4 linked regions of the Homo sapiens genome follow. The protein of the gene in region 3 interacts with the protein of the main gene of each other region in a biochemical or structural test. Each region holds a gene or a part of one and is shown on either strand. Other genes may lie near its edges.

Region 1 (3,500 bases), about 150 Mb from region 3:
CATGCCTGTAGTCCCAGTTACTCAGGAGGCTGAGGCAGGAGAATCACTTGAACTGGAAGGCTGGGGTTGTGGTAAGCCAAGATTGCACCACTGCACTCCAGCCTGGCCAACAGAGCGAGACTCAGTCTCAAAAAAAAAAGAAATAGGCAGATAAAGTAAACAGATGTGATATGTGATAAGGCAAATAAAGAGTAATCCTCTCGGCACCCTGTTAGTTTCTGTCCGAGCACGTATGACAATCTGTAATTATGTTGTTCATTTGACTACTTACTTTATGACTATAAGCTTCAGAAAGGCATAATCATATCTGTCTTCATGTTTAATAATGTATCCCAAGCACTTACCATAGTGTCTAGCATGTAGTTCAATATTGATTTGTTAAGTGAATGAATACCTATTTCACCCTCTTTAATTTAGGGTGAGTAAAGTGAAATCTTAATGGCTGTCAAAGGTCAAAGAAGAGTCAGTAGGAAAGTAGGAATTTGAATGACAGACTCTTAAGTTTTAGTCCAAAATATTATACCACATTCAAAATATTGATCTCAAAGTACAGTCATTGAATAGCTTTGTGTTTTCAAAGCTTAAAGTAGCTGGTACCTAAAAAACAGACTTGAGAATCTTTCAAAACTTTACTTCTACTAAAAAGTTTTAAAACACTTAAAAAGTTTAAGAGAAGTTGTCCAAGAAAAAAAGATATTTTAAATTCCCACTAATAAATAGAGACGATTTAGTCCATTGTTTCTTTTTAATGCATGCTAAAACAGTGAGACCTTAAAGAACTCTTTGTAAGGAACCACGATATCTGAATATTCTAGATATTTATTGGCAGCTATCTGGCTCTCTATAATGATATGTTCTTTGGCTGTATCATTTAGTCAGAGTATTATTTCACATTAACTGACTGATAAGTAACCTGCAAATGTAAATATCCCCCAAGAACCAAATCTATATTTTTTAATGTTTTACATACCATATCCTTTTAAATGGGACTTAAAGATAGATTAAAAACTAATATGTAAGATCTACTCTGGACCAGCTACCATGTTATGTGGAGTTATCAATTCATTTAATACATCTTGGTTTACAAATTTTAAAAGTTAATCTCAGAGTTTTAGAAATGTGCCAAGATCTCATAACTTGTCCATGCCCCTTCCTCTTGAAATAATGCCTTGGAGCAAGCTTGATATATCACATATAGTTATGAAGATGGGAAGAACAATAAACTTTTCCTTTAAAATAAAAATTTTAAAGTTAATAATCATAACTACGAAAACTCCTCCCTCTAAGCTTTATAAATAGGCTTACTTTTATTACAATATGTAAAGACTTGATTCATTTTTAAAATCTTTTGAAAGGCAACCCCTCCCCACATGTGTAGCCAGTCCTTCTAATGTAGTAACTCTCTTCTTGCTTTACATTTATTTTCTTTAGCAATATTAGAGAATAAAGTAATTCCCAGTGTGACTACAGCCAACCAAAGAAAAAACTAGTCCAAAAGAATGGTCACTGAAAAGTTTAGGTTTCAAGCGTGAATACCATATACCAAATTCAGAAAAGCATCTAAATCTACTTCCTTAGAACAGTGTATTTTACTGTAGGGTCTCATACAGATTTCAAAGAATATAATCTGGATGACCAGTATGAGTAATTACTGAAATTTGACCATCATTTAAACATAAACAACATATTGAGCCACTAATGTTTAGAATTCTTTAACTAGACTTCACAATGAAGACATATCCATCATACAGTGTCTGCCTCTTTAAGAGAATATTACGTTATCATGTTTTATTATGTACTCTTATTTTTCCAAATACATGTCTTTATTTCTATTCATGCTTATCATCTAAAACTATATCTATCTGTAAACTTTTTTAGTTATGAAGGCACTTTCAATTTTCCTCTGGCTCATTACTTCCTTACCAATTTTATTTAGTAGTGCTACCATTCTACCTTAGTCTTCGAGTTGCTTTTCAGTCCTATATCCACATATGGGGTATTTGGGACATACATCAGGATATGTATCATCCACTCTTACCTCCTCAGTTTTAATTACTTTTCATTTGAATTTAAGGGTTAACCCCCTGAGATTGTCCTACTTCTTCAAGCAATTGTGAACTCTCTTCATCACACAAATCTCTTCCTCAGATTTAGTCAAAATTTCTCCATCCCACCTTGCCTTCATCCATGGTCAAGTTTACTCTCAAATGGCTATTGTGTTCCTGATGCTATTTTGTGTCTTTTCCTTCATATTAACATCCTTCCTAATCTCCGTCTAAGACTTTTTTTCCAGTACTAAGTCCAGCAAGTCTTTCCTAAATTAAAAAATCCCAACTCCCCAAAATTACAATCTAATGTTGTTTCAGCGCCTTCGTGTGTGCTTAATTTATTCGACTAGTCCAAAAGAGAGAAGACCTTAATCAGGGAAGAGCCATGTTCTCCCTTGAGACCAGTTTTCCCTATATTCTATACCTAGGCACACAGTCTCTATTGTAGATTAATTAATGACCATATTTTTCAGTGCATATATTTTTCATTGCACACATTTACATATGAAGCTTCCTTTTCCACTAAGAGAGTACTGAATACAGGAAATAAGGATTGTTGAACTAGGTCACTGGTTTTAGGGATTTACAATCCATTAGTTGGTCAATGAATCAATTAATGGGTCACGATCAATGTTTTTTAAATGAAATGTAATATAAAAATACATAAGTGTCCTGCACATAGTTAAGAGTACACAGTTCATGAAACTTTCATTTCTGATGCACACAGACATATATACATACACCCCTACTACTACATGGGAACTAAGTCATAATGCAATGTGTAATTCCTATTGTGTATTACAGTCAAAAAAGTATGAAAGCCATGGAACATGAGGATACCTAAGATCCCCTCTAAATCTATATAATTCAAATTCTAATTTTAATTATTTAAAAAAATTTAAATTTGAACATAACTTAAAGATATCAAAACAATGAGCAAAATCATCTTTTCTTAATAAAATGTCACCACTGAACTCTAACCTTAAAATTATAGAACCATAAAGCTTTCAGAGTAGGAAAAAAAATCAGGGATCATCTAATCCAAGTTCACCACTTCAATACATTAAGAGGACAACCGTGGCTCAGAGAAGTGAAATAATTTCATTTCATTCATTTAATAAACATTTGCTGAGCACCTATTGTGTACCAGGTTCCAGGAATGGGTGTGTGGATAAAGGAAAGATGTCTTCAAAGAGTAGAAACAGGAAAGTAAACATTTGCACAGTCTAAAGTGGAAACAGGCAAGTAAACATTTGCAATTATTACTGAAATCAAGGTCATTTACAAGGTGTTAGATGAACAGAAAGCAACTAACTCAATCTGGGTTGAGTGACAGAGAAAATGTTTCTAAAGAGGTGATACTTCTCAGTCTTAAAACCAAAAAGGGGTTAGCCAGGTAGAAGAGGAAGAGTAATATGTACAAAGGCACCATACTGATATACAATAAAGGAT
Region 2 (2,322 bases), on a different chromosome or scaffold from region 3:
CAAATCCTGTTAGGTAGGGCTCTTCTGGCTGTGTGGGACAGGATTCAAACTCAACGTTTTTTCAGCCAAAAGGGGAATTGATTGGGAAGATGTGGGCGTGTCACAGAACAGCCTGGTATTGGGAAAGGCAGGAGTGAGTGGGGCTTCCTCTCCCCACCTCTTTTCTTTCTTTCTTTTTTGAGATGGAGTCTTGCTCTGTTGCCCAGGCTGGAGTGCAGTGGCACAATCTTGGCTCACTGCAGCTTTCGCCTCCTGAGTTCAAGCAATTCTCCTGCCTCAGCCTCCCGAGTAGCTGGGATTACAGGTGCCCACCACCACAGCCGGCTAATTTTTGTATTTTTTAAAAATAGAGACAGGGTTTCACCATGTTGGCCAGGCTGGTCTCGAACTCCTGACCTTGTGACCCACCCACCTCAGCCTCCCAAAGTGTTGGGATTACAGGCATGAGCCGCCACGCCCGGCTACCCACCTCTTTTCTTTTCTTTTTTTTTTTTTTTTTTGTGATGGAGTCTTGCTCTGTCATCCAGGATGGTGTGCAGTGGCACGATCTTGGCTGACTGCAACCTCCACCTCCCGAGTTCAAGCGATTCTCCTGCCTCAGCCTCCCGAGTAGCTGGGATTACAGGTGCCCACCACCACAGCCAGCTAATTTTTGTATTTTTAATAGACACGGGGTTTTACCATATTGGCCAGGCTAGTCTCGAACTCCTGACTTCAGGTATCTACCCACCTCGGCCTCCCAAAGTGCTGGGATTACAAGCGTGAGCCACCGTGCCTGACCTCCACCTCTTCCCTTGTGGGTTCTTTTCTCCCTCTGCAGACCTCACAGAGTCACCTGGGCTTGAGGCCTCATAGAGGAGCCCTCAGTGCTGACCACACACTACAGTCCCCTGAGGAGCTACATGACTTCTGATGCCAGGTCCACCCAGACCAATGAAATAAGAGTGTCTGGGGTTGGAGCCTAGGCATTGTGCCCCCAGGTGATTCGAATGTGCATGCAGGGTTGGGAACCATTGCACTATAGCTTCAGGCACCCAGAGGAGAAACTCCTGCAGTTCTCATTCATTAGAGGGGCAGGACTCTGGGGAACCTATTTAGGGTCAGGTGGCCACATCCTCTGACCAGAGGCTGGACAAGTCCCTGTTGTGCCCCGGTGGATGTGCAGCACCGGCCAGGCCAGGCGCCGAGGGGTCAGTCCCCCAGCAGCTCCCTGCCATTTGTGTCATTCCTCCCCTCCCTGCCCTTGACTGCAGTGTACATGGCAGTCATCTCATCTGACTTGGTTTCCGTCACTTTCCCTCTCAGAGTCAAGCTCGAAGGAGAAGCTGAGCTGCGTTCTTGAGATCTGGGGACGTGGTGGGAGATGTGGTCACAAGGCAGGTGGTGGAGGAGGCCAGAATGGAGCTGGCCAAGGAAGGTGCGTGGCAGGGAAGGGGAGGTTCTGTGATGGATGCTTTCCCCAGAAGCCTGATACGCAGTGGCCAGGGAGACTGAGTCCCGGGAGAGGGTTTGGGGTGGGAGAGGTCTGAGCATGAGGGGCAGGGCACACTCTGGTTCAGGGAGATGTAGGACAAAGGACTCTGGCCTTGGGACTGATCTGGGCTGGTTTCCTTACATTCCTCTCAGGCCCTTCCCCCTGTATGCTAAGGGGGGATGGTACCTGGACTTCAAGACCAAAAGCCCTTCTCTGACCGCACTGCTGAGTGCAGCAGGCAGCTCCACCCACAGTCTCTGGGCAGCCCCAGGCTGTCCCCTCCCCACTCTGATTCTAGGACAAAGACCTTGGACCTCAGCTGGATGCTGGGGATCAGGAGAGGAGGAATGGTAGGTGTGGAAACAAGGGGCAGGATTCGGGGTGAGCAGAGCTGGGGGCTGCAGACCTTGCTCAGGACAGTCCTAATGCCTGCAAGCTCCTAACGCCCTCCCCACATTCCCTTTTCTACATGGGGAGCTCCTACACTGTGTCCCCTCACCTATCGCTGATCCCCAGCATCCAGCTGGAGGGCCTTCCAGGAACTGTCCCTTCCCTTAGGAGGTCTCTGGAGCACAGTAACAGGGGCAGGGTTTACTACCTTGGGGCCTCTTTCCACACCAGGGGCTCCCTGACCCTGGGGACTGCTCCTAGAGCTGGGCCAAGCCTCAGGGGCAGCCTCCAGGAGTGAGTGGGATCTCCTATCAAGGAGGACTTTGTGCCAAGGCCAAGGCCAGGCTTGGGAGGGGGGTCCCTAGACAGAGGGTAGGACCTCTGAATTATTTCTTGCTTAGCCCTGGATGTGCTATGTAACCCACCCTGGACCTCTGTCTCCTCATCTTTCTGCCCAA
Region 3 (3,500 bases):
AACAAAAATAGTTGATGGTAATTTTAGAATAATATTAAAAGAGATAAAAGTTAGAAGAACCATTTATTCTTAGTGTTTCTTTTCTAATGTAGAAATGTTGACTAGAGAGGTTTAATTTAAAACACAGCCCTATTTTCCCATTGTTTTAGTAAATATTTCATAGGCAGAGGACCTGCTCTTCTCAAGTCCTCCATCGTGAATTCAAATATTCTTGCTAAGCACTATTTAAAGTCTTTTGTGCGCTATTTAAAGCAAAGCGAACATGTTTTTCTCAGTTTTCTTAACTTGAGGCTATGATGCATGCTTCCTTACGCCCCTAAGAGATGTAACCAGAAAATGAATGAACTATAAATAACATACTCCCTTACATTACAAGTTAAATCATAAGTTTATTATAAAGGAAACAGAAGAATAACACAGTGGCTTAAAAACTGATTTGGCTGATATTGAAACAGCTTGATTACCATAGAGTTTTCCTAAGTACTCATAGACGTGGGAAGTGAGCAGAAAATCAGGCCTGAGGGTGGCTACAAAGGTAGCTATCCTGAATCCAGGACAACGTTAAGGGCTCTGGGCTCCAGGTGAACAAACTGCCTGGATTTGGGGATGACAGGATCCTACCCACTGGCAATAACACCCACTGGGCCAAAGCCCTCCTGAGAATGAAGCTTTCCTAGTAAGGATTTTATTTAAGAAAATAATATAATGCTTAAAATTTCAAATTACACAGGTGTGTCATCTCAAAGCCCTTCTCAGTTTAAACAATCATATCTAAATCATCATTTAAATCACGATTCTTTACAAAACATAACTGCCAATAGAGAAATAATCTATACACAGGAGATCAGAATGACCTATGCTATTCCCACAGAAAGAGCAGTTTTATAGAATTAACAGGCAGGGCAGAGACCACCAAATGCAGTCTGAAATGTGCTAATGTTTTCCTATCAACATTTTCAAATCAAATTTCAAAAAACCAGAGACTGCTTTTCGAGATGTGTTACATCATGAATCAGAAAATACAAACCCTACCTGATGTGTTACATCATGAAGCAGAAAATACAAACCCTACCTGGTCGGAAGGAGAGCAGCATTTGTTCGCCATCTTCATCTGTGGAGAGAAGGCAGAAGAGTCAGGGCCACAGCCACCAACACCAGGATGGCTCACCTGAGTGACAGCTGGAAGTCATCAGCCACGCTCTGTCCTGGGAAACAGGCCTCTTTAATGACATATTTCCTATCTGAAGACCTAGCCAGAGTCAATACAAACATGGCAGCAGTAGAAAACAACTTTACTAGCAGGCTTCAATTCCTCTTTTTCAAATATCAGCATTTATGTAAGTGAAGTTACACTTCAAGAGCAGGTGCTTAAATTCCAATATCTGAGAAAAGTGAGGAAATGATTTCTGCTCTACATAACCTTGTGAGAGTCAGTATTACTGTGATGGTAATTACGGTGATCACAGTTGATATTCTTTCTTTTATTTAGTTCTCCCAATGACCTATGGAGGTAGATGTTGTTTTCCAAAATTTCACCGAGGAAGTGGAGGTGCAGAATCATAATGTTCCCACAGCCCACAGCCACACAGCCGGGAGGCAGCTCAGAGTCCACATTTCTGTTCTGAAATATTGGGGTGTCTGACTTCTCTGCCCTGCCTATGAGGGCTGATTTGTGAAATGACAGAACTGAAGGGCGCTCCTCGTCACAAACATTTCTGCAAATATAAGTCAAGCACCATCCTTTCTTCCCTATTTATTGAGATAACTTTGGAATTTAAAGTGTTGCGTTTGAAAACTACAATGTTAGGAAGGTCCTGGTACTTCCTTCTCTGCTTGCAGAAAGGAAGCCCCTGAGGTCTTCACAGGAGAAATGTCACACATTGCTGCTTCCCCCAGTGTTAGGTTAACTTCTGTTTTGCAGCCACAGGAAGAAGGGAGGTTGCAAGGGAGACGTGAGGTGGTGGGCAGGGCAGGGGCAGGGCGGGTGCATCTGCAGGGCCGCAGGGTGGGCCACGCCTGGCCAGTCTGCAAGCTGGACCCAGCCTCTGCAGCCTCCAGGCTGCGAAGGAACAGAGCAGGGATCGAAGTGCAATTACAGGGCAACTCAGCTTAGAGGGAGCAAGGGCAGCAAGGCTGGTCCAGGGCCGCCTCCAGGCACGGCCAGTCCTGCCACAGTTGCCAGGGCTGCGGCCACGGCTCCATGTCCGAGTCCAGGCACCCATCACTCCAGGCAACGCCCGTGTCATCAAGTCTTCGTTCCCACCCCATCTCTTTTCATTTCTTTAATTTTTAAAATCCTGTTGACTTTTAATATCAAACATCACTTAAGGGGACAGAATACTTTTTCGTTTCTGGGGGACTGCAGTACAAATTTGAGAAGTAATGTTTTTGCTCAATTATGCCTTTTTCTAAATCTTCATAATGTTTGGGAGAATTATACTTTTAACTCAATTAGGTTTCCCCAACTCAAAATGTCACACTGTATCAATGCATTTGGGTAAAATATAAAATTATGACATATAACTATTTCTGTATATGTGTGTGGAGAGAAAGAGAGAGGAAGGGAGGGAGAGAGACAGAGGCAGACAGAGGGGAGGAGGAAGACAAAACCAGATGGGAAATTCTCAGCTGTTAGACATTGCCTTACTCTTTGATTTGGAAACATTCTGATGGCTTCATTTTTAATGTTTTTAGACATAGATTTGACACATTGAAACAAGTACATGATTTTCTGTTTCGGGTTAATCATAAATCATCAGAAACATGATGTCTCCATTATTTTTCATGCACGAATGAGCATCAGCAGAGACTCAGAAACACCGTGTGCTCACGTTCTGAAGTGTCAGCTCCCTGATGTTGGCTGAGACCGCCCGCAGCCAGTCGGTGCCATCCTGGGCTGTGTAAAACCGGAGGATCCCAGAGCTGACTCCGTCCAGGGCGAGCACCTCGAACGCATTCCACCTGGGGAGGGAGAGAGCTGTCCAGGAGGCCCCGCAGCGACGGGAGCGGGCCTGCCTCCGTGAGTTTCGAGGCTGATGCTCAGCAGGGCTCTACCCTGGACCCAGGACATGGGGCAACTGCACCACTTCCTCAGGCGCCTCAGTACAGTCAGCAGGCTCGCTGAGACCAAGACCAAACCCCGAATTCCCTTGGTAACAGGAGCTACTTCTAATTCGATGAAACATGAAAAGCACTTTGTCAAGGAAAGAACAGTGCTCCTGAAATTCTGGAGTTATTGTCTGCAGGATTCTTACTGGTTATTCTTTCGAAGACCCTTTGGATGGAGCACTTAAAGCTCCTGATGGGGTGAGGCTGGAGCAGCCCAGCACCCTCTGCACTCAGCATCCACCCTTCTCTAGGACCACCTGTGTGCTTCTGATTGACAGGGGAGCTTTGGGAGAACATAGTCCCCTTCCACTGCTCCATGACACTCCACTTGCTGAGAACTCAATCATGGCAAAGTATTAACAACCAACCGTCTCAAATTCAGTAGTTCTTCC
Region 4 (3,500 bases), on a different chromosome or scaffold from region 3:
TCTAATTTTTCACAATTATAAACTAGTATTACAATAGCCATCCTTGTAGATAAACTTTTGCTAAGTTTTAGCTAACTTAATGACACATCTTCATGAGGGTGAATTTGATTTCTGAAAAATTTCAAAACTCATTAGAGTCCAGTCTTATGAAAACGGCTGCCTGTTCAAGTTGGATGATGTAAGTTAAAATTTCTAAATAAAAGTGCCATATGAATGAAAGGCATCAAACTGTTAATTGATAAGTCAAAAAGAGCAAGGGATACAGTTTAGTTTTCTGTAACAGCTAACTAAGAATAAAACGAGAATAAAAACCTTGAATTTTTGAGTCAGATATACTTTGAAGGTGTTGATAATTACAAATTTTTCTCTTAATGTCTTTTGATAAAATTTGTTTTTGGGTCTGGGTGGTAGGAATAGGAAATTAAGATTATACGCACATATCTACACTTGTAGATTTAGCATTCAATGTTTCATGTTTTGGAAACAAAGTTCTAAGATGCACATATGGCTGTGGCATGTGACAAACCCCTATAGCCAGCAAACGGAGGCTGGTGTGCTGAAGAACGTGAATGAGTGAGCGAGGATGGAACAGGAGCTAAGGAAGTGGGCTCAAGTCTTATTTACAAATTCAGAGAGACCAAAGAGTTTTAGTCAAAGGACCTATTTTATATATATGTATACACACACACATATATATATATTTTTTTTTTGTAGAGACAGGGTCTTGCTATGTTGCCCAGGCTGGTCTTGAACTCCTGGCCTCAAGTGATCCCTCTGTCTTGGCCTCCCAAAGTGCTGAGATTACACGCATGAGCCACTGGGCCCAGCCCCTATTATGATACTTAAACATTTAAATACTGTTTAAAAAAGATACACAGGCTGGGTGCAATGGCTCATGCCTGTAATCCCAGCACTTTGAGAGGCATAGGCAGAAGGACTGCTTGAGCTTAAGAGTTCAAGACCAGCCTAGGCAACACAGCAAGACCCCGTATTTAAAACAAACAAACAAAAAAGATACATACACACAGAAAACGGTTTAGAAGAAAATATACCAGGTATTAACACTGAGTGCCTTTAGGTATGTGAGATGTTTTCTTTCCCTTCATTTTGTTTGATTTTACTTTTTAATTTTTCTGTAATGATCATGTCCCTTTAGTCATGAAAACATTTCTTAAAGGAGACACAAAAATTGTTCAGATAAAATTTTAGTTAAAAAGCAGGTGGATGAAAAAGCTAGCACGCTGAATTTCTTAAAGTTAGAAGATAAAAGGAAAAATTAACAAACAAACCTGAAATGGGAGATGTTCAATTTAATGTGAAAAACAAGCACATTTCAAAATATGTTTTATTGGTACCTCCTCTGATGTCACTTTTCCAATCCTATAGTCAGGACAATACAAGGGATTAGCCAAGGCATTCCGGTAAGCTGCTGCATGCAAATTTTCAATGACATCTGTGAGATAAGTGAAGAAGCATTTAGGGAAATGCACTTTCAGTAAAGACAACATTTTTAAAACCTAGAAAGCAACAAGCCTATACAAATTTGGTCATCTTCTGGCATTCATATGTTAAGAGGACTTAAAATTTATTATTATTTAACCTCTAGTAACTGCCAGTTTCTGCCAGTAGAATGTGCTGAGAAAAAAATAAAAAAGATTACATGGCAGCAGCTTCTATATACTGGAGTCCACCTAAACCACTTTTCTAACTTTAACCTAGCTGGTATCACTTGGAAGGTATACTGGCCTGGGTTTTGGGAAGTCCCCATCTAGTTATGGTTCTGCCGCCATCTTGCCATGTGACCTTGGACAAGTCATTTAATCTGAATTTTACTTACTCCTAGGTTTCCTCTCTAGGTAATAAGGAGATTGTCAGGTAGCTTTCAGGGGACCAATGGGAGCTTCCACTGGGACTTACTCCTCTGTGGTGCTTGGTGCTTTCCCTGCTTTCTTGCTTCAATGCCTTTTTGCCTGCAGTATTTCCTTCAGTTGCTCATTACCTGGCAACTTGCCTATGCGAGGCACTGTGCTAGGTGCTAGAAATACAGAGATGTGGAACATACAATGCCTGCCCTCAAATTTTAAGAGGAAAAACTGTGAAATAAAGTATTATGGGTGCAATGTCGGCAGTGTGTCAAAAGTGCAGTAGAGGTACAAGGCAAGGGCAGTGGGAATTGGAAAACAATTAATACAAGTAATATGTGGGATCCATCTTACAGAATGAGCTGGTGTTTCCCAGGGGAAATCATTTGGGAACAGCATTTTAGGCACAGGAAGCAGACAAAACAAAGGCATAAAGTATAACAATAATTTGATTCAAATGGGAATTGCAGCTGGAAGGAGAAGAGGGTAGAGCATAAAGTAAGAGAAGTGGGCTGGGGTAAGATCACGCAAGGCCATATACGTATATGCTGTTTGGACTTTATCCCATAGATAATAAGAAGGCTTACTTTCACGTCAGAAGGATCACTGTAATGGCCGTGTGGGAGATGGACTCAAGACGTAAACCTGGAGGCTGACACCAGCCAGGAGACTACACAGTAACTGTTCAGGCAGAATAGATGCAGGCTGGTGCCTCACTGCCGCCAGTGGGGAAGAAGCCACTCTGGACACATAGGTCATCTTTTCTAAAATTGTACTATTCTATCTATTTCTTCAGTAGAAATCCTGAGCAACAAAGATAATGCTCCTCTGTGACACCAAGCATCATCATGAAATAACATCAGTCCCCAGGCCTGCATGTGGAGGGGAGCCTGTCCCATGCTGAACCACTGAGTTGAGCTATTTCTGCTCTTCCTGCACATTTCTGCTCCCACCAGAAGTTGTATGACTCCCAAGAGTCAGCGGCGCTTGCTTACAGACTTGTATTACCAGTTGTACTTGTCAAGATTATATAATTAGACATTATATAAACATAAAATATGAATGCAAAAAAGATTCCTATTAAAAAAATTAAGTTACTTACTTTGGAAAGACTCAATAAAGAGGAGATGGCTAAACAATAATAGCAATACAATAGTAAGCAATAATAGCAGCAGCAATAAACTGGTGTAGGATTTGGGGTAAGCAAAACAACTCTTAAAAATCACTAGGGGTCAGGCACAGTGGCTCACGCCTGTAATCCCAGCACTTTGGGAAGCTGAGGTGGGAGGATCACTTCAGCCCAGGAGTTCGAGACCAGCCTGGGCAATAGAGTGAGACCTCATCTCTATAAAAAAATAAAAATAAAAATTAGCAGGGTGCGGTGGTGTGTGCCTGTAGTCCCAGCTACTCAGGAGGCTGAGGTAGGAGGATCACCTGAGTCCAGAAGGTTCAGGCTGCAGTGAGATTGTGCCACTGCACTCCAGCCTGGGCAACAAGCAACACCCTGTCTCAAAAACAAACAAACAAACAAACAAAAACAAAACATTGGGAAGGAAACAGGAAAAACTTCTAGGATCTTACAAACAATTTACTTACCATCAAACATGAAAAATGATTATAAATGTTTAGAAACAAAAG

Evidence for each region. Proteins that work in one complex are often made in the same cells at the same time.
Region 1: the proteins of SNTG2 (region 3) and ACVR2A interact in a test that uses a peptide from one of them, tested with the Homo sapiens proteins (one large-scale study listed by IntAct).
Region 2: the proteins of SNTG2 (region 3) and CLDN19 interact in a test that uses a peptide from one of them, tested with the Homo sapiens proteins (one large-scale study listed by IntAct).
Region 4: the proteins of SNTG2 (region 3) and UQCRC2 interact in a test that uses a peptide from one of them, tested with the Homo sapiens proteins (one large-scale study listed by IntAct).

Annotation. Positions count from the first base shown.
Region 1 is NC_000002.12:147,851,529-147,855,028, reverse strand, and holds part of ACVR2A (activin receptor type-2A isoform 1 precursor), read right to left. Parts: intron 1-3,500. UniProt on the Homo sapiens protein: On ligand binding, forms a receptor complex consisting of two type II and two type I transmembrane serine/threonine kinases.
Region 2 is NC_000001.11:42,732,593-42,734,914, forward strand, and holds the end of CLDN19 (claudin-19), read right to left. Parts: 3' UTR 501-2,322; downstream 1-500. UniProt on the Homo sapiens protein: Forms paracellular channels: coassembles with CLDN16 into tight junction strands with cation-selective channels through the strands, conveying epithelial permeability in a process known as paracellular tight junction permeability.
Region 3 is NC_000002.12:1,237,349-1,240,848, reverse strand, and holds part of SNTG2 (gamma-2-syntrophin), read right to left. Parts: intron 2,962-3,500; coding exon 2,832-2,961; intron 1,112-2,831; coding exon 1,073-1,111; intron 1-1,072. UniProt on the Homo sapiens protein: Adapter protein that binds to and probably organizes the subcellular localization of a variety of proteins. May link various receptors to the actin cytoskeleton and the dystrophin glycoprotein complex.
Region 4 is NC_000016.10:21,963,361-21,966,860, reverse strand, and holds part of UQCRC2 (cytochrome b-c1 complex subunit 2, mitochondrial precursor), read right to left. Parts: intron 1,454-3,500; coding exon 1,356-1,453; intron 1-1,355. UniProt on the Homo sapiens protein: Component of the ubiquinol-cytochrome c oxidoreductase, a multisubunit transmembrane complex that is part of the mitochondrial electron transport chain which drives oxidative phosphorylation.